Linked DNA regions of Homo sapiens. The protein of the gene in region 1 purifies or fractionates together with the protein of each later gene. This does not show direct contact. Each region holds a gene or a part of one and is shown on either strand. Other genes may lie near its edges.

Region 1 (6,112 bases):
TGTCCCACACTTGCTGAGCCACTGAGGGGATGCTGTGTTGGTAGAATAAAGACATGGAGCTGTCCGTCTCCTTGGTTGAAGAGAAGACATATCTGCAAAGGCTCTGGTCCACAGTTCCTCCAGATATCATGCCTGCATTCCTTTTGTCTCCTACCCCATTCCATTCTAGCTTCCATGTGACCTCTGAAAAGAGCTTGGGCAAACGCTTACTTGACCCTGACCTTCTGTGTGGAACTTTGTATGGTTCCTCACTGCCCAGAAGCTAAAGTACAAGTCATTGAACTTTGCATTCAAGGCCTTGCTCCCACTCCTCCAGGTGGCCCCTTCTGCCTGCACACTCCTAACCCCTCTCTGGGCTCCCACCTTGGCCTCTTGGCCTCCGCTCATGCTGTTCCCTCCTCATCTTCGCCTGGTGCCCTTCCTGGTCTTTTGGCATTTGGCACCCTGTCTCTTCTCCAGGGAGACTTCCCTGACCTCCCCAGCCCCAGTCCAGGTCAGGCGACCTCTCTGGGCTCCTCAGCCCCAGTGTTTCCTTGCGGGGGATACCCCCGGACTGAGCATGTATCATCGATGAGGGGTGACCTGGTGGAAAGATGTCTGAATCAGGATCAGCCTTGGTCTCCTCGGTCTCTCTCCTCACTGTGGGGCGATGTTGTGTTCCACAAGTGGGGTGCAGGGCTGGTTCATGAACCTCCTTGCAGGAAGGGAAGTCCCTGGTTATTTCCTGGCCCTCTCCCATGCCTCCTCATAACCTTGACCACAGTCTTCTCTACACCCCACTCCCGGACCACTGGCTTGTCCATGCCCCACACCTGGTCCCAGACTTGCCACCTGTCCCTGCCCTCTCCCCTTAGGACTGTCATATTTACCTGTCGTGTGTCTCAGACCTTCTGATATCTGAGTCATCTAATAAACAAACTGCTAATAGGACAAGATCATGACAGACAGAGACTCTGTCGGCCTTTCAGTGGAGGCTCCTTTAAGTATGCACACTTATAGAGAATTTTATACACGTAGTTGAAATTGTACATATAAACTTGCAAATTTTTTCTTTCTTTTTTGTGGGGGAGGGGGGAGCCTGGGTCTCACTCTGTCATCTAGGGTGGAGTGCAGTGGCACAGTCATAGCTCCCTGCAGCCTAGATCTCCTGCGCTCAAGCAATCCTCCTGCCTCAGCCGCCCAGGTAGCTAGGACTACAGGCACACACCACAGCACCCAGATTTCTTTCTTTTTTTTTTTTTTTTGTAGAAAATAAAGAAGAGAATCTTGCTATGTTGCCTAGCCTGATCTTTAACTCCTGGGCTCAAGCAATCCTCCCTTCTTAGCCTCCCAAAGTGCTGAGATTACAGGTGTGAGCCACATTGCTCGACCACAACTTCAATCATATTTGTAATGTACAATTCAAGTGATTTTGCCACACTGACCACACTCATGTTTAAGCCACGCCAACAGAGTTCCATGTTTTCTGATGTTTTTTCGAGATGGAGTCTCGCTCTGTCACCCAGGCTGGAGTGCAATGGCGCGATCTCGGCTCACTGCAACCTCCACCTCCCCGGTTCAAGCGATTCTCCTGCCTCAGCCTCCCGAGCAGCTGGGATTACAACGTCTGCCACCACGCCCGGCTAATTTTTGTATCTTTAGTAGAGACGGGGTTTCGTCATGTTGGCCAGGCTGGTCTCAAACTCCTGACCTCAGGTGATCCGCCCGTCTGGACCTCGCAAAGTGCTGGGATTACAGGCGTGAGCTACCGTGCCCGGCCTTTCCATGTTTTAAAGAACATATTTTGCCACCCCCTGGTGGACAGTGGCTCACCACCGGCACAAGAGGCTACACAGGCAGATGTCAATGGGGACCAGGCAGGGACAGGTATTGTCGTGAGCCTAGCCCTACCCGCGCCCCCGCGAGTAACCACATCTCCTGACTGCCCAAGCGCAGATTTCCATACTGAACATGAAATTGCCTGACTTCGAAATGGTGGCAAATCATTCAAAAAAACTTTAAGCTCCCGTTGTATTGGTTATTAGGGTCGAGCCTGGGGAAGACCCCTATAGGTGTGTGTGTGTCCTTGTGTGTCGGGGGTGTGGTGTTCAGACCTCTAATAGGGCTAGGAACCGGGCGACCACAGCGCGGAAGCTTGAGAGGGAAACCCACCTGGCGCCAGGCAGGAGGGTCGGGGGAGACAGGGTGGGTCCACTACCGGGTTAAAGACCTGTAGTGGGTGGGGCTACACGTAGGGCGGAGACGATGGGACTTCCGGAAATCAGCCGGCACACGTGACTTTTGTTTGCAGAAGCGGGAGGTACCCTAGGCAGCCAATCGGGGAGCGCCGAGTCTCTGTCCAGCCAATGAGAAGCCAGGTTGCTGTGGCGCCTCGCCCCTCCTCCCTGGTCCGCGAGCCTTGGGTACCCCCAGCTTTTCTTCCGCCAGAGCTGTTTCCGTTCCTCTGCCCGCCATGCCGTTCCTGGAGCTGGACACGAATTTGCCCGCCAACCGAGTGCCCGCGGGGCTGGAGAAACGACTCTGCGCCGCCGCTGCCTCCATCCTGGGCAAACCTGCGGACGTAAGCGTGGGCCGGGCAGCACGGGGCGAGGGGAGGTTGGTGGGCCAGGGGTCCGGCCCTGTCCCTGCTCCGCCTCCCCGACAGTGACCCCGAATCTTTTCCCCAGGGACCACTCCCCACTCCTTTCCTCACGCCAAGCTCTGACTTTCCGTGCTCCACGATCCCGCGGCTCCCCCTCCGCACGTCTTTCCCTTGTCGCCCTCCCCAGTCATGACCCGGGCGTGACCTTCAGGGACCGCGGCCCGTATCGGGATCCCTGCCCCGCGAACACTGCGCGTTTCGGCTTTCGCGCGCTCGGGTCCCGTCCCCAGAGGTAGCCCGGCCGGCTCCAACTTCGGGCAAAACTTTTCATGTCCCCCTCAGCGCGTGAACGTGACGGTACGGCCGGGCCTGGCCATGGCGCTGAGCGGGTCCACCGAGCCCTGCGCGCAGCTGTCCATCTCCTCCATCGGCGTAGTGGGCACCGCCGAGGACAACCGCAGCCACAGCGCCCACTTCTTTGAGTTTCTCACCAAGGAGCTAGCCCTGGGCCAGGACCGGTGCGTAGGGGTAGTAGGGGATCCATGTGGGACTGCCGCAGACTGGAGCCACTGATCCTGCCTCAGGGGGAAAAACCCATTTCTTGCCCTGCCCAGTAAGGACACATCAGGGTCTGGAGCTTTGGGGCCCCCTGACCCCTTAGGTTCCTGCTGTTAGGACCATCTTCAAAGTGCGAGCAGGATTGAATGAATTTCTGGCTCTGCTCCTCAGTGTGTAAGTCTGTGAACCGGGAAGGCTCTCTTTTAACACCCCCGGGGCAGTGCAAGGGTCATGTGGGATTGTCTGTGTGCTGTACCTGCCTTGGCACCTGACAGGGTAGGTACACGTGGCTGAAGTGTGATTTTCTAGAACTTTTCCAGGCTGGTCAGAAGGAATTCTGGGTATGTTCTGAAGTTACGTATTTTGGACCTGTGTCCCAGCCAGGTTCCAGGTGAAGTTCACGGGAGACTCACAGAGTAGTGAAAGACCATTGGCCTGGATGTCTAGACATCTGCTTTCTGGGTCCTGCATAGCTGGGGGACCCCAGACAAACTTGGAAATGAACCATCTCCAGTTGGCAACCTCCTCTTCTGTGAATACAGGGGAAAAGACCTCCCTCCCCCACAAGAAGCGTCTGCAACCCAAACCTGGCGTTCTGTGACCGAGTTAAAGTTTCCTCTTGGGTAAAAGATATTCTTGAGCCACATCCATGTCTAGGAGGAAGTAAGGGCATGAGAAGCTTGAAAGGACACTGTCCAGGCACGGTGGCTCATGCCTGTAATCCCAGCACTTTGGGAGACCAAGGCGGGAGGTTCATTTGACCCAGGAGTTGTAGACCAGTCTGGGTAACATAGTGAGATGCCATCCCCCAAAACAGTTTTAAAAATTAACCGGACATGGTGGTGTGCACATGTAGTCTCACTTAGTTGGCAGGCTGAAGTGGGAGGATGGTTTCAGCCCAGGAGGTTGAGGCTGCAGTGAGCTATGATTGCGCATTGCACTCCATCCTGTGTGACAGTGAGACCTTGGCTCACAAAAAAAGACCTTCTGAAATGGAGCCTTTGTTAGTCCATGAAGGTCGATGAGGAATGGCTGATCCTGCTGGGTCCTCCCTCAAGCTACAGAGGAATAATACAGTCAGCCCCCTGTATCACTGGGTTACGCATCTGTTGATTCAAACAACCATGGATTGAAATATTAGAGGAAAAAAATTGATAATTGCATCTATACTGAAAATACGTATAGACTTTATTCCTTGTCATTATTCCCTAAACAATACAACTATTTACATAGTACGTACATTATATTAGGTATTATAAGTAACCCAGAGATTATTTAAAGTATATGAGAGGATGTGTGTAGGTTACATGCAAATATTACACCATTTTATGTAAGGGACTTGAGCAAATGTAGATTCTGGTTTCCTCTGGGGATTCTAGAACAAATCTCCCACGGATACTCAGGGAAAACTGTTACTCTAACAACAAGTGTTATACACTTACCATGTGCTAGGTCCTCTACAGGTACTTTACACTCATGATCCCATTTGATCCTTACAATCCCTATCCACTCTCCCTTTGCTCAGACAAGACATGCTATCCCCATGAGGTAGATAATCTCCATTATGCCAATTTTATGATGAGAAGACTAAGGCTCTTCATACTCCCCCGCCCTCAGCCAGGCTGTCCCAAGCTGTGGCGCTCCTCACTGAAAACTGCTGTCACCTCTGAGAGGGGCATGTTGGCTTATGGCACAGACATTAGTGGTGGGGGGGCCACCCTGTGCCCAACCTTTGAGAAAACAGGTGTCTGAGGTACTGTGTCCTTAGGGAGTCTGCAATTAGGAGGAGGCAGATTGCCCCTCAGCCCACAGACTGACAGAGATGATGGAGTGTGCAGCACACACGATGAGGCTACTGTGTTGAGTGTCTGTCCTAGGTGGGTCATGCTGATGTGCAGCCACCATTCCACACCTGAGTGTCCCACTGCCCTGCTGGGGGTTGGGGAATGCTCATTACCGGGATGAGCACTTTTGCAAAATGGGCTGAGGTGGGAGGATCACTTAAGCCCAGGAATTCAAGACCACCCTGGGAAACAAAGTGCGACCCCATCTCTACAAAGTCATACAATTAGCCCAGCATGGTGGCATGAGCCTGTGATCCAAACTACATGGGAGGCTGAGGCAGAAGGTTTGTTTAGGCCCAGGAGGTCGAGGCTGCAATAATCTGAGTTTCCACCACTGCACTCACTCCATGCTGGCTGCCTTTGGATTGTTCCTAATTGGATGGTTTTGCTTTCAACAGACACTCCAATAAAGTACACGAAATAAAGAATAAAGTTAAACAGTCAGTCCCAGTGCTGTGTAGGTGGCAGTAAGTCTGGGAGAGCGACCTCGGCTGAACTAACTGTGGTGTGCATCATTGTTAAGCAGGGCCAGCAGGATCCTCATGTCACCTGGCAGGAGGAGGGACAGGGAAGGGTCCCTAGAAGTGACCTTGAGTTGCACTTAGTGCTCTTGGCAGAGGGAAGGGCTTGGGCTAGTGCTGGAGGCATGAAGATGGGGTGTGTTCAGGGCTCTCCAGCAGTCCAGGCATGGGAAGGGGACGCTGAGGGCCAAAGGCGGAGGTGACACTGGGAAGGGAACTAGCAAGGTGAGGACTGGCTTTTGGCCATGTGACTGAATTGCCTGTGTGGTGCGTGTGTATGTGTGCGAATGTCAGTGAACTGTGTGTGAGTGAATTGTGTGTTTATGTGTGGGTGTATATGTGTGTGATGTGAGTGAACTGTGTACATGGGTGTATACGTGAATTTTAGTGAATTGTGTGTAAATGTGAGCAGTGTGAATTTGAGTATGTGGGTGGATAAGTGAATTGTGATTTTGTTGGTGTGAATTGTGTGCCTGTGTGTGACGGGGAGTATGTGTGTGTGTGAGTGAACTGTGTGATGACTATGAATGTCAGTGAATGCTGTGATTGTGTGTGTGTGTGTACGTGTGTGGGGATTTGGTCTATATGTGTGAATTTGAGTTGTGTGA
Region 2 (4,852 bases), on another chromosome or scaffold:
TGTAGATATAAACAAACTTCGGAAGATGCCACAGTTTGGGAACAATGCTTGCTTTATTAAAAAAAAAAAAATCAATACAATTTCCCCACAGGCTCATGATGTAAAATTCTATAATCAAGGCTTGTAGATTTGTAATTATGGTATGTCAGCTACATTTAAACAAGAGTGTTAAAAGACTGTTAAAGTTAAACTAACAAAATTGCAGTGTGAATTGTCCTAGTCTCATTCTAATCTACTGGTGTCACTTTCATTTAATCAGAGGAAAACTATGGGCCAATGTCAGTGCTATTTCCAATGCCCTAACATTCTTTGTTCACATTGGATTTTAAGCCATTACCAATCCAAAATGGTTATAAAAAGATATATTTAAGAAAGTATTTTTAATCAATTCATTCACTCACCAGTGAACTAGTTTAACAGGCTTTATTGAAAGCTGGCTTTAAAGTTAAATAACCTTTTATGTTAAATGATTGTGAGTGTTTTTTACTTGCAGAAGAATTTCTTGAATTTATCACAAGTCTAATAAAAAACAAACTTTTTTATGAACACAAATCCCACTTGGAAACTTTTTTGGTGCAGATAAGTCACTTAGCTGAAATACCACATTTAGAAAATATCAATTCTGCATTTTCTCCTACTTTAGTGAAAATTATTTTCTAAATCATTAATAATTTAAATACAGAACAAAAGCTACTCTGTCAAGGATTCATATTTACACCATGCACTTAAGTTTTAAATTAAGGTACAACATACAACTCACAGTTGTACTATCTGTAAATAGCCTCCAAATAAATCACAGAACACATAAAACAGAGCTATGTTAGCTAGTTACAGAAGAGGTGACCAATCATTCCAGTTTGCCTGGGACTTTCCCAGTTTTAGCAGTGAAGTGTTCCACATCCTGGGAAACCCCTCAGTCTCAGGCAAACTGTGATAATTGATGCCACCTAGATATCCTCCCCCGCTCCAAAAAAAAAACAGAGTGTTCAACAGTTCTGTGCTGGGGGAAAAAACTGAGTATTATTTGGTAACTCTGCTAGAGCTGCCAGATTAGTTGTGACCCTGTCACAGATATCAATAGGTCTAGCAATCTGCTGGAAACATAGATCCAAATCTTAAAAAAAAAAGAAAAAAAACAAAGAGCCAGCTACACCCAAACCTGCCAACTAATACCCACTACCAGTGAGTCACATGTGAACAAAGGCTGCTGCTCAAAGAAACTTAGTATAATAACCCACCTAGGGCCAGGCATAGTGGCTCACGCCTATAATTCCAGCACTTTGGGAGGCCACGGCAGGTGGATCACCTGAGGTCAGGAGTTCAAGATCAGCCAGGCAAAACCCTGTCTCTACTAAAAAATACAAAAATTAGCCAGCCATGGTGGCGGACACCTGTAATCCCAGCTACTCAGGAGGCTGAGGCAGGGATGAACCCAGGAGGCAGCAGCTGCAGTGAGCCGAGATCACACCAGTCCACTCCAGCCTGGGTGACACAGCGAGACTCTGACTCTGAAAAAATAAAAATAAAAATAATATAATAACCCATCTAGCCTCTGTTACATACATTTCTCTAGTTTCACAGCAAGAATTAGTCCTCAGGAAAAAAAAAAAAGTATACATGTAACAAAATATCACAGGGTACCCTGTAAATATGTATGTGTCAACTAAAAATAACAACAATACTATTAAAATCTTGTTGCTGGAAGATATTTAAGGAGCCCTCAGAGTCAGAGGCTTAGCACCAATTCAGCCTCATTCTGTCCAACTCTCACCTTCTAAGCCATTCCTAGTATCTAGACTCTTTCTTTATTCCTAGTAATCTAACCTCTCTCTCTTGAAACTCACTTCCCAGAAATCAGATGCTTTGCCATTTACTGTACAAGGTAACAAAGTTTCTCTAGGAACAAGACACTCACCGTAAACCTCCGGCCTATTTTCCCAGGGCCTAAAAATACTGGCCCTGAAACTTGTTTCTACTTTATAATGTGGGCTGCTATCCATTAGGTCAACTCTGCCATTTTGCCAACATGCTGAAATGGCCGTCTTGCACGCATGGCTGGATCTCCTACACGCCAAATACCATCATCTACTTATTGCCTGTTTCCATATTCCCCTAACATTCAACCTGCCTGTCCACATTTCTTCCTCAGACCCACTATCAGGAACTTCTGAGTCACCTGAAGTGTTCCACCAGGTCTAATCAGAAACTAAATTAATCCACCCTTTCTAGTATAGCCTACCCAAACTGAACTCTAGGACAAATACCTAGAATATAATTTCTAGTTGCTCTCAATTTCTAGAGAGAAAATTGAAGGATTTGGGGCATGAATAATGACTTTAAACCTCTTCTTCCAAATAAAGGTTGTGACTTCCGAAGATAAATGAGGCTATGGAAAATGAACGTCTAACCAGAAAAAGAGTGTCAAGAACAGATTTAAAATAGTGTCGAGGATAGGTTTTTAAACCATTGATTAAAAAAAAAAAAAGAAAAGAATAGAATCCCTTTCACAAAAGCAAGAACATGTCTGAATCATGAATTAAGGTATCTTTGAAACTAAATTTGGAGAGAGGAGGAAAAAAGCATATCTTTTAGACCCTTTTTATCATGAAAAATGTTCAACTTATGTACAGAAAAATATAATGAAGCCCCATGATCATTCAGCCCCAACAATTAGTAATATGTTACCATTGCTGCCTCATCTATTTTTTACTTTGCTGAGGTAAAATATAGATTTTTAAAAATAGGTTGCAGGGTTTAAAACCTAGATGACGGGTCGACAGGTGCAGCATATCACCATGGCACATGTGTACCTATATAACAAAACTGCACGTTCAGCACATGTATCCCAGAACTTAAAGTAAAATAAAAATAAATAATAATAAAATAAAAATAGGATACTAAGGTAGAAGATGGAAAGAGTCATAGCAAAATAATTTTCAGGTGAAAAATAACAAGAGACAATAGGGGACAATATTTATGGAGTTAGATGGTGATATACCAAGGCAAAATGTGAGTAACAAGCAGCTAAAACAGAAAGTTTAGGGGTTTTTCTTTAATTGCATTTTAATACATAAGTGGGAAGCTATACCCCAAAATGTCAACAGAAAAGTCATTTTAAAATGTATGGGAGACACTTCCATTAATTTATAAGCAATTTGAGATAATAGTAAACTATCACCAAGTTTCATAAAATGATAAATTTATTTCTAAGCAGTTTACATAAGCATTGAAAACTTCTGAAAAGTCAAAAACTTAGTTTATAATAATCTCAATGAGTATTTTCTCTAGAATATGTATTGTCAGCATATAACTACTTGAACTAAGTAATTTTATAAACTAGTAGAGATCACTGGAATGAGAAATGTCAAGGTCATATAAGTAAATGAATGGGAAACTACCATTAGAAGTCATTTCTCATGACTTTCATTCTACAGCACTCTGCAACACACCCTGATAGTTCTGCCAAATATACTGACTAAAATGACATAACCCAAGCAAGTCTGGTAAAAGTGAACCAGTCTGGTAAAAGTCTGGTAAAAAGAACTCTGAGCTGAGGGACAGGATGGATTATTTATATTTTCAAATATACATCTCAATTCCCTTCCTATTACCAATTTTAAAAATACTCTTTACGGGAGCACTGTAGCTTAAAGGAGAAAGTTGTAGATTTGAAACCTTGGTCCTTTTCCTTGCATTGCCACTAACTAGTAGTGTGACTTTAGACAAGTTTTTTTTTTCTTTTTTTAACTTCATTAAACCTCAGTTTCTCATATGTAAAATGAGAATCCAAACAGTATTATTAACATTTACTACCCACTTGCTATTTGCCACATACTGTATTAAACAGCATAGCAGGCAGTTCTTGCAACAACTGCTTGAGTTGGGTGCTTGCTCTATTTTACAAATAAGGTAAAAGAGGCACAGCACAATGTAATATATTCCACAACATAGAATAAAGGGCAGAATCAAGATCTGAACCCAAGCAGTCTCACTTCACAAATGGCTGTGCATTTAACTCCTACTCACATGGTCTCCTTATTGCCTTGGCAATAAAGCTTCCCGGGAAGTGGGATGCTGTGCTAAAACTCAGAAGCATTATCTTAAAAAGTGAATTTATTCTCCCTTTTGCCTGGTCCTTCCTCTGGTGGAAATATCAATAAACAAAGGAAAGGTGGGCGAACAGGAAGAAGCCAGTTGGTTTCTTTAGTAGACATTGCTACAACAAAATAACTTGCTTCTTCAGAAGGCTGTTTATCTTTTCTCTTGTAATACTTCATCAAAAAGTTTGCTCTTCTTGGGTCTGAACAATAAAGTTCTAATGAACACTGAAGGGTCTACCAGCACTCAGGAATGCAAACTAAAAACAAAATTCTAAGCTCCAAAACCGTCTGAATGGACCCCTCCTCTCAACTAAGGGCATTCTAAAGTAATTCAGGCCATGATGGGAAGAGGGGGTCAGACATGTCTCATTACACATTCCTCCCTTTGGAACTCAGGAACAATTGAGCAGCATTAACATTAAAACAGATCTTAAGGCTTTTTGTAACAATAAGACACCAAATTCCAGCTTTACTCTAGTATGGCATCACAGGACAGATAGCGGGATCTGAAAGAAATAAAAGCATTTTACTCTAAAATATATTTCTTTACATATTTTGAATTGGCCCTGCAAAGATGTCTCTTAAGGGGAAAATCTATATTCTGTAGAGAACCCTCTTCCCTGTCCAGGTCTTTTTCCTGATCCACTAGAAAATTAACTAGGAGTCTGGGACCTTTTTAAGTCTGATAAGAAACATTTACAATCTATTCTCTCTGAAGCCTGCTACCTGGAGGCTTCATCTGCCTAATAAGA
Region 3 (4,852 bases), on another chromosome or scaffold:
AAAGTCCATCAGCTAATACTATTCAAGAATATGATTTCATGTTTAGCCCCCTTCTAATGTGTTTGTGCAACCTTGCTATTATTCAAGTGTTTAAGATTTTAATCAGAAAGACCAGTTTAGTAATGAACAGTGAATATCCCAGATAAGTGTCCTATAAACTCTTGTTTGGCTACATTAAAAAATCTTTTCAAAAATAAGTGCTAGCATAGTCTAATAAAAGCATCCAGAAGGATACACACTCACCTTGTAGCACTTAGGGAAGCATCATCTTACCACTGAGGGTTAGGGTTTTAAAACGATGTGCCTTATAAATTCCAAACTATTTATGAGCTAGAGCAGGGGTTGGCAAACATGGCCTGGATATTTGTTTTTGTATATGAAGTTTTACTGGGATGCAGCCATGCCCATCCGTTTATGTATTGTCTATGGCAATGTTACATCAGTGACCATGTAGTTTGCAAAGGCATGCCTTCGCAAAAAGGGTATGCCTAGGAAAAAGTTTGCCAACTTTTGAACTGAAGGACTTTTTAATACCACCTTTTAAATATCCTTTTCATTCCAAAAATTTCCTGGTTAAGATTTTTTAGGGCAAATAAAGGGGAACCTTATTTCACTGAGATAATTATAATTCTAAATGACACATGATTATACAGGCTGCCTATTATTGCTTTGATAAAAACAGGCATTGGGCTTGGCCTCTCCACAGACTGCTGTACTGGTCAGTTGCTACTTTTCTATTATGAGTGTCTGTCTCATACACTCACATCAGCTTCTTCACACTCTCACTCCTCTGCTGCTGCTACCTCTTCAAGGATGCTTCTTGAGCCTGCATTAATTATCTGCCTCCTTTCCCTTGTTTCTTCTTGCTAGTTTTACCATGTTTCTCAGGTACTCTGGATTTGGTGAAAATACCAGAAGCTTTGATCATCTCATATTATTTACCTTATTTGGTTCTAGCTTATTTTTTAAAAACTTCAGTGTTAAATATTTGTTTAGAGTTATTCACATACTAATTCACACTAACTTCTTACTTATCATTCCCCTTCTTGCATCTCAGTCTTTCCTTTTGGGTTTAATTTGCTTCTTCCTGAAGTGCATCCAACTTGTCACTCCATTTGTTGCTTGGGGGTACTAGGCACCTCTGGGCGTGGCCTTGGATCAGCTCTTGCCTTTTGCAACAATACTCTCTTGCTCTTATTTGGGAATTTCTTCTTTGGCCCTACCCTGCTTGTTTTCTGTCTTTCAAGGTTTCCTTATCATTTCTTGTTTGATGGATCCAATTCTTCTGGTCCAAAGCAGATACTGATCAACTCACTTTAAAAACATCTTTTCTGTCACTGGGGGCAAAAAGAGAACACCACAGAATGTGCTCACACCTAAACTTTGAAATGGAAGCCTCTCATCTGTTGATCTCTACATTTTTCTCATTTACCAGCTTGCCAATTAAAAATGAGGCCACAAGTCTTTTTACCTGCAGATATGTACATGTTCCATTTCTCATTAACTGACCTGACAGTACTTCTGAAAGGCAATTTCAAGTAATAGTAAGAACACAGGCTGCTGAATCCTACATCTTGGAACAAATCTTGATTCCATTACATTGTATTTGACTTTCAAGCAGTTAGACCACCCCGAGATAAATGGTTTCCTTATCCATAAAAGAGAGATAATAATACCTAAGTATTTGGGTTTATAATAAATTATAAATGATACAGCATATCATATAAAGTTTGATTTCAAATATTCTAGCAATCATGTTTGTTTTTCTGATTTCTCCCCTATTAGTTGTGATCATACTGAGTTTCTAAATCCCTGTTTATTATTTTGCCTTTTTTCGTATGCTAAGGATAAATCAACTGGATAATGTATTGGAAATGTCAATGAATCTGGAAAGTTCTTAAACCAAGTCTTTTCAAGTGAATTCATAATAATCCATAAGAATTCTACTTTTGATAAAAGGCAGAACAAATTAGACTTAATATAAACACTGATTATAACTTTTAAAAGATGCACTGGAACAACTCTATTTTAGCAACTAAGAATTTTTGAAAGAGTATAATCAATTTTCAAAAAAAATCTGCCTAACAAAACTACAGGGTATCCATTAAAGAAGCTTATGCAATAATAAAATCAAAGTAATTAATTTTGAAAAAGCAGAACTAAAATGTACTATGCTGATTTCAAAAAGAAGAAAATCTCTTTCATATAAAACAACAGCTCTACATGGTTACAAACGGTCTGCTACCAACATAGCTATCTCCAAATGTCACTTATTTGGCTAAAAAAAGTCAAGGTTCAGACACAAAAGAACAAAATGGGCATAAGCAAAAGAAAAAACAAACTAGTTAAAAGTAAGACAACTCACAATCAATAATTTAGCAACACAGTACACACACAGAGAACCTTCTGGGATGACATCTTAGGGCCTAATGTACATGCAAATCAAGCCAACTTTTCAGGAACTCATTTAATGTTTTCAACTCTTTAACAACGGAAACTTACAACCACAAGGTCTCAATGACCTGAAGCCTCATGTTTTGGGAATAAGGAGTACAGAACAATGGTTTGGGTTCTCTATAGAATAAAAAATATATCCTGTTTTGTTTTTCCTAGGAGGACAGAGAGGTCTAACACAAAGAAAAATTGTTCTGATCTACAGTTTGAGATATGGTTAGAAGGAAAGAGTACATTTAGGGCAGCTCATTTAGTAAATGACAAGGGACCTAAGCAAAAAATGATCCCATGGAGGTTTTTATTTTCAGAGAACAAAACCCTTGGCTGGGTAAAAAAAAGGTCAGGGAAAAGGCGGGAACGAAGGGTAAGGAGGGAGTCCTCCATTTCTTTTGAGAGCTAGCAGATAGGCTGAAGCCATGGAAATAAAGCCAATGCTGAGGAAGAGACCTGGGACAGGCCAAAAATAAAAATAAAAAAATCAGATCATGGTCATGTGTCTTAAATCCAGGGTCAAGCTGTGCCTCAACTGTACAGTTATATAAATTAATAAGATCTCTTTACTGTTTAAGCCTGTCTGAGCTGGGTTCAGTTACTTGCAAGACAGAGTCCTAACTAATACAATATTGAAATTATATAAATCTTTCATAAACAGCAAATCTGTTTTTGATACAGTAAGCAAAAATATTTCCCAGGGATGAAATTATCTAGCAGTATTCAAAGGTACTTTGTAATCCTTTCGCAGATCTTGGGGAGGGATGAACAGTAAAGAGAAAGACAGTGACTGGAAATCTTTGCGAGCACACCCTATCACAGATGCTGGATCCACTAGCGGCAAAGAGTAATATTTCCATTTATTTTGGCTTTTGGACAAATGCATCATTCTTATCAGTAAGGTATAAAAATTGCTCTTGATATATAACCCAAACCCAAACAACAACAAACATATTTAAAGAAATCCAGTAATTGTGGTTAACATGAAGCTATGGATAGAAAAAACCCTAGCTCTATTTAGAGGACCCAAATTAACTGCTTTTAGAACCATATCTTTACAAAGTTGTCAATAAAGTGTTAAGAGATAAATGTGCTATCTTCTTTCCCAATTTTCTTCGTATCTTACTGAAGCTGACACTACAAAGCATTAAAATCCTCTTCAGCCTTAGTTATAATAAAAGCTACTACTTATTGAGTGCTTACTATGTATCAGGCACTGTGGCAAAATGCTTTATATACATCTACTCATTTCTGTTTTTCTCTTGCTTCTTTTAGTAGGGCTTAAGATCCCAAATGAAATATTATAAACAACACTTTCCAGAGTATGGTCATAAAATGACAAGGCTGGGATTAAATACTAGTGATAATACTGTAACTGGTAATATTTTCTGAAGATTTCTTGCTTTCCAACATCTGTAGGATCCATCTAATACAGCTAGAATGGCGGCAACTAAATGGTTAATTTCTGAGTCTGGATTTTGAACTCCATCTAAGGGCTTATAATAGCAAAGACAAAAAAGGTAGGAAAACTCCAAATTTACCACTATCTCAAGCATATCAAGAAACCAGATAACTTGGAGAGTCCTTACTTAACAGCAAACTACCTCTAACCATTTTGCTCGGTATGTATTCCAGAAAATGAAACATATACATTTCAAACCAGTGCTACTCAAAGCATGGTGTATGAACCTGGTGCCAGTCCACAAAGTGTTACTGTCCAAAATGACATTCTTCTATATCATCAAGTACAATGGTTATTTCAAGCTGGTTTCTGTGTGTGTGTGTGTAAAATATTTTCTTGACAAAGAAGACTGCTGATTTATATTCACCCAAGCTCCTTACCTACCACAAACTGGTAACAGTTTATGGGCCAGCTATTTTGAGTAACACTACACTTCAATTTTGTATATTGCTTCCAGTTTTCTGTCCCTGCTGCCACACAAAATTCAAATAAATTAACAATCAAATACTTGGCTTAAACACAGTAATAGAAAAAGCAATACTATTAGCAATTGACCTCACCTTTGACAGAAGCAATTTCACACAGGAAACATGACCCTCATAGACAGCAGACAGAAGAGGAGTAATATGATGTTTATCTGGAGCCTATGAAATAATAAACAGAGATAACTTTATCTGTTTTTCATTTCTTCCTACTTTCTAGTTTTAACTAGAAAACTCTTTCTAGATTTACCTATTTGCCTTTCTAGAAAATCAATCAATCAATCAATCCACAGAGTCAAGTGTCTAGTCTCTTAAAGCTACCAGAGACCCAAGCCCACGAGCAATGTCTTTCCTTAGGAGTCATAGTAGTAGAGCATAGGGAGCAGGGCTTTGACCTCAGCTCAAATCTTGGCTCTGCCACTTACTATGGTACTATTATTTAGCCTCTCTAAGCCTTGATTCC
Region 4 (4,852 bases), on another chromosome or scaffold:
TGGATTACCCACAACAATAACCTAGGAGGAATGGAAGGCACTGAAGAGTTACAGACTATATAGTTACTAACTAATCTATGTTAAAATTTGACTGAAAATGTCTAACAGGTAGCCTTTGTACAGGGGAGGCTTGGGAAACACCAAATACAATATAGCATAGGAAAATGCATTTTAAGTTATAAAAATCTTTTATAAAATGGTAATAAAAAATTTTGAAATAATATCAGATTTATAGAAAAGTTACAACCATATTACAGAGACTGACTCCCATATATCTTTTTTTTTTTTTTTTTTGGTACCTCTTTTGACAAGCTGTAGACAAGATACTTCATTGTCTCTAAGTAGTGCAGTGCTGGCAAATATTTCTCACGAACAAGGACGCTTTGAAGAAGTGGAATTACTGTGCAAGGAGTACTTTACCTCCAAATAGCCTGCAATTTAGCAGTCTGAACAATCTTCTAATCTTTTACTGGCACCTGTGGATTTCTATTAAACTCATTTATACTATTTTCTGTGATGACAGAAAATAAGTTAACTATTTAAAATGAAGTGCACAGAAAGCAAAAAATGCAGATATCTATGAAATGTTATTGATAGAACATTATAATGGGCAACTTAAAAAATCTTAAAAAATTTTCTTTCACCTTTTTTTGAAAGATAGGAAAGTATATGGAAATCAGTTAAACCTTTAACCGGCAAGCCTATTTGCTGGGTGACAATTAAGTTCTAGTTAATTGATAGTTCACTAATAAAAGAAGGTTTGGCTGGGCGTGGTGGCTCACACCTGTAATCCCAGCACTTTGGGAGGCCAAGACAGGTGGATCACCTGAGGTCAGGAGTTCGAGACCAGCCTGGCCAACATGGTGAAATCCCGTCTCTACTAAAAATACAAAAATTAGCTGGGTGTGGTGGCGTGCAACGGTAGTCCCATCTACTCACGAGGCTGAGACAGGAGAATCGCTTGAACCCGGGAGGCAGAGGTTGCAGTGAGCCAAGATTGCACCACTGCACTCCAGCCTGGGTGACAGAGCAAGACTCCGTCTCAAAAAAATTAAAAAAATTAATAAAAAATAAAAAAGGCTTACTGTAATATTAAGACATATTAGAATCTAAAGTAAATAGTTTGAACACAAAGAGAGAACTATAAGTCATACTGACTCAATTCTTCAAGAGACAAGCATATTAAAATTCCTCTGCATTAAGAAAATCTGAGCATTCAGAAACCACTATCTTCTATTCCTGAGAATAAACTTACCTTACAGCTAGCTATCTCCTTTCACAATCACACACAAATTTAAATGTCTAAATAAATATTCCCACGCAGCAAAAATGCACCAGAAGATCCTGTGCCTTCTCTATATGTTTAAGAACTAATACTAAATTTTCACGTTATACTAATAGGAAAAATATTTTTGAGCACTCTGAATATAGATTTCTATACTGTAAGAAAAAACCCAGAAAGGGAGAGCTTATCAAGCAAAACTCTAGAGCCGTATTTACTGATGATTGTACAGAACTAGAAAAAAGGGCAAATAATTTTGGTTTTGCTTAAATGCTAAAAGCATAAGTTTCAAATGCTAATAATGAAAAATCCCATAAAATACAGCATTGGTCACCTTAACTGACTTCTTGGCGTATTTATCTAAGGCTGCACCCTGGGATTTGAAGATTTTCACATTTGCTTTCAGTAAATCTTTTCTCTCCATGCCTTCCCTTCTTGGCATGGAGCCCACAAGAATGGCCACATCCAGGTCTTTGAAGGCAACGTCTTCTTTATCTGTTGCGATGACATCTGTGGACATGGCAATAAATACGCAGAGCTACTTAAACATCAAAGTTTGAAGTTTTCTTTTTCATATTGAATCTACCCATTAATTCTTTCACTTGTTGCAAGTGTTTACATATCACACTGATATACATTTCAGGAGCCTGAGAAAGATAATATATTAATTTAACAATCATAACATTAGAAATGTCAATAGATTTATTTTGCTTTTCCTGTTTCAATAATTACTTAAATGTCAAAACTCCATAGCTTTTATCTTTTATAATCATATATGATGCAAGGTATAATGATGACTTTTGAAGTGACACTTGTTATTCACACTAATTACCACACAACACAAAAGAGCAACTAATTCACCTAACCTTTAAATTACAATTACTTTAAGGTCTAAGACACCAATCACAAATTTAAAAATAATAAATGTTTATTGAGGAGTTTTGTGCCAGGATAATGCTAAGAGATTTATATTACTATCAAATTTAATCTTCTGATTTTATAGATGGAGACACTGAGGTTTAAAGAGATTAACTCGCCACCATCAAAAGATAATGGAGCTGTAATTCCAGCCTAGGTTGGTCCAGAGTTCAACCACTATGCTCCAGTGCTAGTACAATAAGCAAACATCACTTGCTTTTTGACTAAAGAACATAAGTCATCGCACTTCTTTGTTGATTGTATTAAAAAAGCTATGACCAACATTCAGCATTTTCACTGGAAAATTGGCTAGTTGCATCATAGTCAAGGCTGCCATAAGTCTGAAAATGGGCATAGACAGGAACACCAGTTGGAGAAAAAAAAATTATCTTCCTCTTTCCCAGTCACATGTCCTTATTTGCTGAACTTTCCCTTCCCTGTCATATTCATATCTGGCAGAGGACAAACCAACAGCAATCTGGGCCCTTTAGAGAAAAAGCACAGGGAACTCAGCAGAGAAAGGAATACAAATGGGAAAAAGCAGCAAAGCTGATTTGGAAAGAGCTGTGGGTGAGAAAAGGGAACCAACAGAATAGTGTGGGCAGTCATGTATTCTTCCACAGAACTTTGCAACCAAAAGACTTAGATGGCAGAGTATCCCTTCTAGCAAATGTTTATTCAACAGATGAAGAATTTTAAGGAAAGTTTTTCTTGGAAGGTATGTATTATTTTGCTTTGTGCAAACTTCTAGGAGAGTATCATTAATTAATCCTTACCAAAAGAAAGACTATGATGAAGAAATAGCTGAAGAAAAATATTTAAATTAATTTAGAATATTTTAATAAACTTTTCGATCAAATTTAAGGCTTCCTTATTATATCTGTGTTATAGTTCAATGATTTGCAAAGGCCCTTAGCTGAGCTCTTCTGGGTTTTTTCAAACTATAGAGCATATGGTAAGGACAATTTACACTATGTCTCAACCTGATGATTGGTAGATGGGATGGGGACCGTGTAAGAGGAACCAACCAACTTCCAGAGCAATGTATAGCTATGAAGGACATCCTTCAAAACTGAGAAAGTTTTCCATTACAGGATGCTACTATTACCAGTTAAGCAGACTCCATAACAACACAATGTAGACAATTCCTACGTTGTCTATAATGTGTGTGTGTGTAGACAATTTCAGGTGTATAACCCTTGTGCAATATTACACTTAACTGGTATAATAAATTATATACACACACACATTGGGGAAAAAAGGATAGTCCTTTACCTGACATTGATTGTTGCTCATTTCTTACCCTTATTTATCCTTGGTATACATAAGTAGTTAATAAACAGTGGTAGTTCAAAATAAAAAAATCCTCTTATGAAATAATTTCTAATTGAGAGCCTTTAACAAAAACCTAAAACCTGTATTTTGTAAGAAATCAAATACCATAAAATCCCTTCTCTACTCCCCAACCCACCTTTCAGGAGGGGAAGGGCACAGTCTTGCAGTTCCATTAGGACACCGTCCAGGACACCCATCATGGGGGTGATATCCAACAGCACAAGAATTATAGGCTACCAAATAGCAAGGACAGCATCTGTTAGTGTAGGCTATTTCATTTAGACACAAGAAAGTCTTTTCACATAGTTTTTATTTGGTATGTACATGCATGTAATTCCCATTAATTAGTCATGATGATTATTTTAGGAGGTCAGGTATCTAGCACTATGCCACTTTCAGAAAGAAGGATGCTATAAAACCAGCATTGGTTTGCTAACAGACACAGTGAGAGGAATCACCACTACTCAATTTTAACAGTATATGAAAAAAACATTAAACTGAGTGACATGCTATAGCTTGCTCTTATTGTTAATAGCTGTATATTTGATTTCAGTTCATGGAAAGCTAAGTACAGTATCTGACATGAAAGAATAATTCAGTATCCATGGGTCAAGAAACTGAATAAATGAATACCTTAGAAAAGGATTTTAGTGTATATTAATCAGGCTTGCTGGAAGTCGGAGTGCCTGCTTCAGCGGGGAAGCAGATTTCCTTACTCTTTTGGTTCCAAAGGCCATTTATGAACAAGGGAGTGCTTACTGAGTAACTCTCTCCCACATGACTGTAAGTTACTGTCATTAGTGATATCTCCCATTGACTGACACCTGCTGGTTGCACCAAGTCAACTGAGTACAATATATGGAAGAGTTCTCATTTGCAAAGTGTTTTCAGTGCCTGGAGGCGTACATATAAATACCTTAGTAGCTTCCATTTATAGCAATGTGCCTATTACATTTACTGGGATTACATATTCCTTCACTGTTTAACAATTTGTGTACAACTAAATACAGATTTTTATTAACCATATTCTTACTCTAATAACTTAAGATTTATAGACACCTGTTCCTACCTGATCTTTACCAAAGACAGATCCATTTCCAATACTGTACAGCAGTGAATATGCAATTTGACCAGCTGCTCCAGTCACAAGGACTCTGATTGGTTCAGACTGTAATGAAAAAGACCCATTAACATCTTTAAGTACTACTGTACCTTAAAAATATCCAGGATTTTAATCTATAGTAAGAAATCCACATACTTTAAAAGTGAATGTAAAATTTTAAAGTCCTTTTGCATCTGGCTCAGTAGAAAATGAAT

What was found. The genes of interacting proteins can lie anywhere in the genome.
Region 2: the proteins of DDTL (region 1) and TBCA purify together in Homo sapiens (affinity purification with mass spectrometry, with the first as the bait; one large-scale study listed by BioGRID). This does not show direct contact.
Region 3: the proteins of DDTL (region 1) and MTPN purify together in Homo sapiens (affinity purification with mass spectrometry, with the first as the bait; one large-scale study listed by BioGRID). This does not show direct contact.
Region 4: the proteins of DDTL (region 1) and MDH1 purify together in Homo sapiens (affinity purification with mass spectrometry, with the first as the bait; one large-scale study listed by BioGRID). This does not show direct contact.

What each region holds. Positions count from the first base shown.
Region 1 is NC_000022.11:23,964,463-23,970,574, forward strand, and holds the start of DDTL (D-dopachrome decarboxylase-like protein), read left to right. Parts: upstream 1-2,425; 5' UTR 2,426-2,452; coding exon 2,453-2,560; intron 2,561-2,923; coding exon 2,924-3,099; intron 3,100-3,523; coding exon of another isoform or gene 3,524-3,740; exon of another isoform or gene 3,741-5,433; intron 5,434-6,112. UniProt on the Homo sapiens protein: May have lyase activity.
Region 2 is NC_000005.10:77,769,612-77,774,463, forward strand, and holds part of TBCA (tubulin-specific chaperone A), read right to left. Parts: intron 1-4,852. UniProt on the Homo sapiens protein: Tubulin-folding protein; involved in the early step of the tubulin folding pathway.
Region 3 is NC_000007.14:135,946,132-135,950,983, forward strand, and holds part of MTPN (myotrophin), read right to left. Parts: intron 4,552-4,852; coding exon 4,468-4,551; intron 1-4,467. UniProt on the Homo sapiens protein: Promotes dimerization of NF-kappa-B subunits and regulates NF-kappa-B transcription factor activity. Plays a role in the regulation of the growth of actin filaments.
Region 4 is NC_000002.12:63,594,339-63,599,190, reverse strand, and holds part of MDH1 (malate dehydrogenase, cytoplasmic), read right to left. Parts: intron 4,704-4,852; coding exon 4,605-4,703; intron 3,769-4,604; coding exon 3,672-3,768; intron 1,793-3,671; coding exon 1,617-1,792; intron 22-1,616; coding exon 1-21. UniProt on the Homo sapiens protein: Catalyzes the reduction of aromatic alpha-keto acids in the presence of NADH. Plays essential roles in the malate-aspartate shuttle and the tricarboxylic acid cycle, important in mitochondrial NADH supply for oxidative phosphorylation.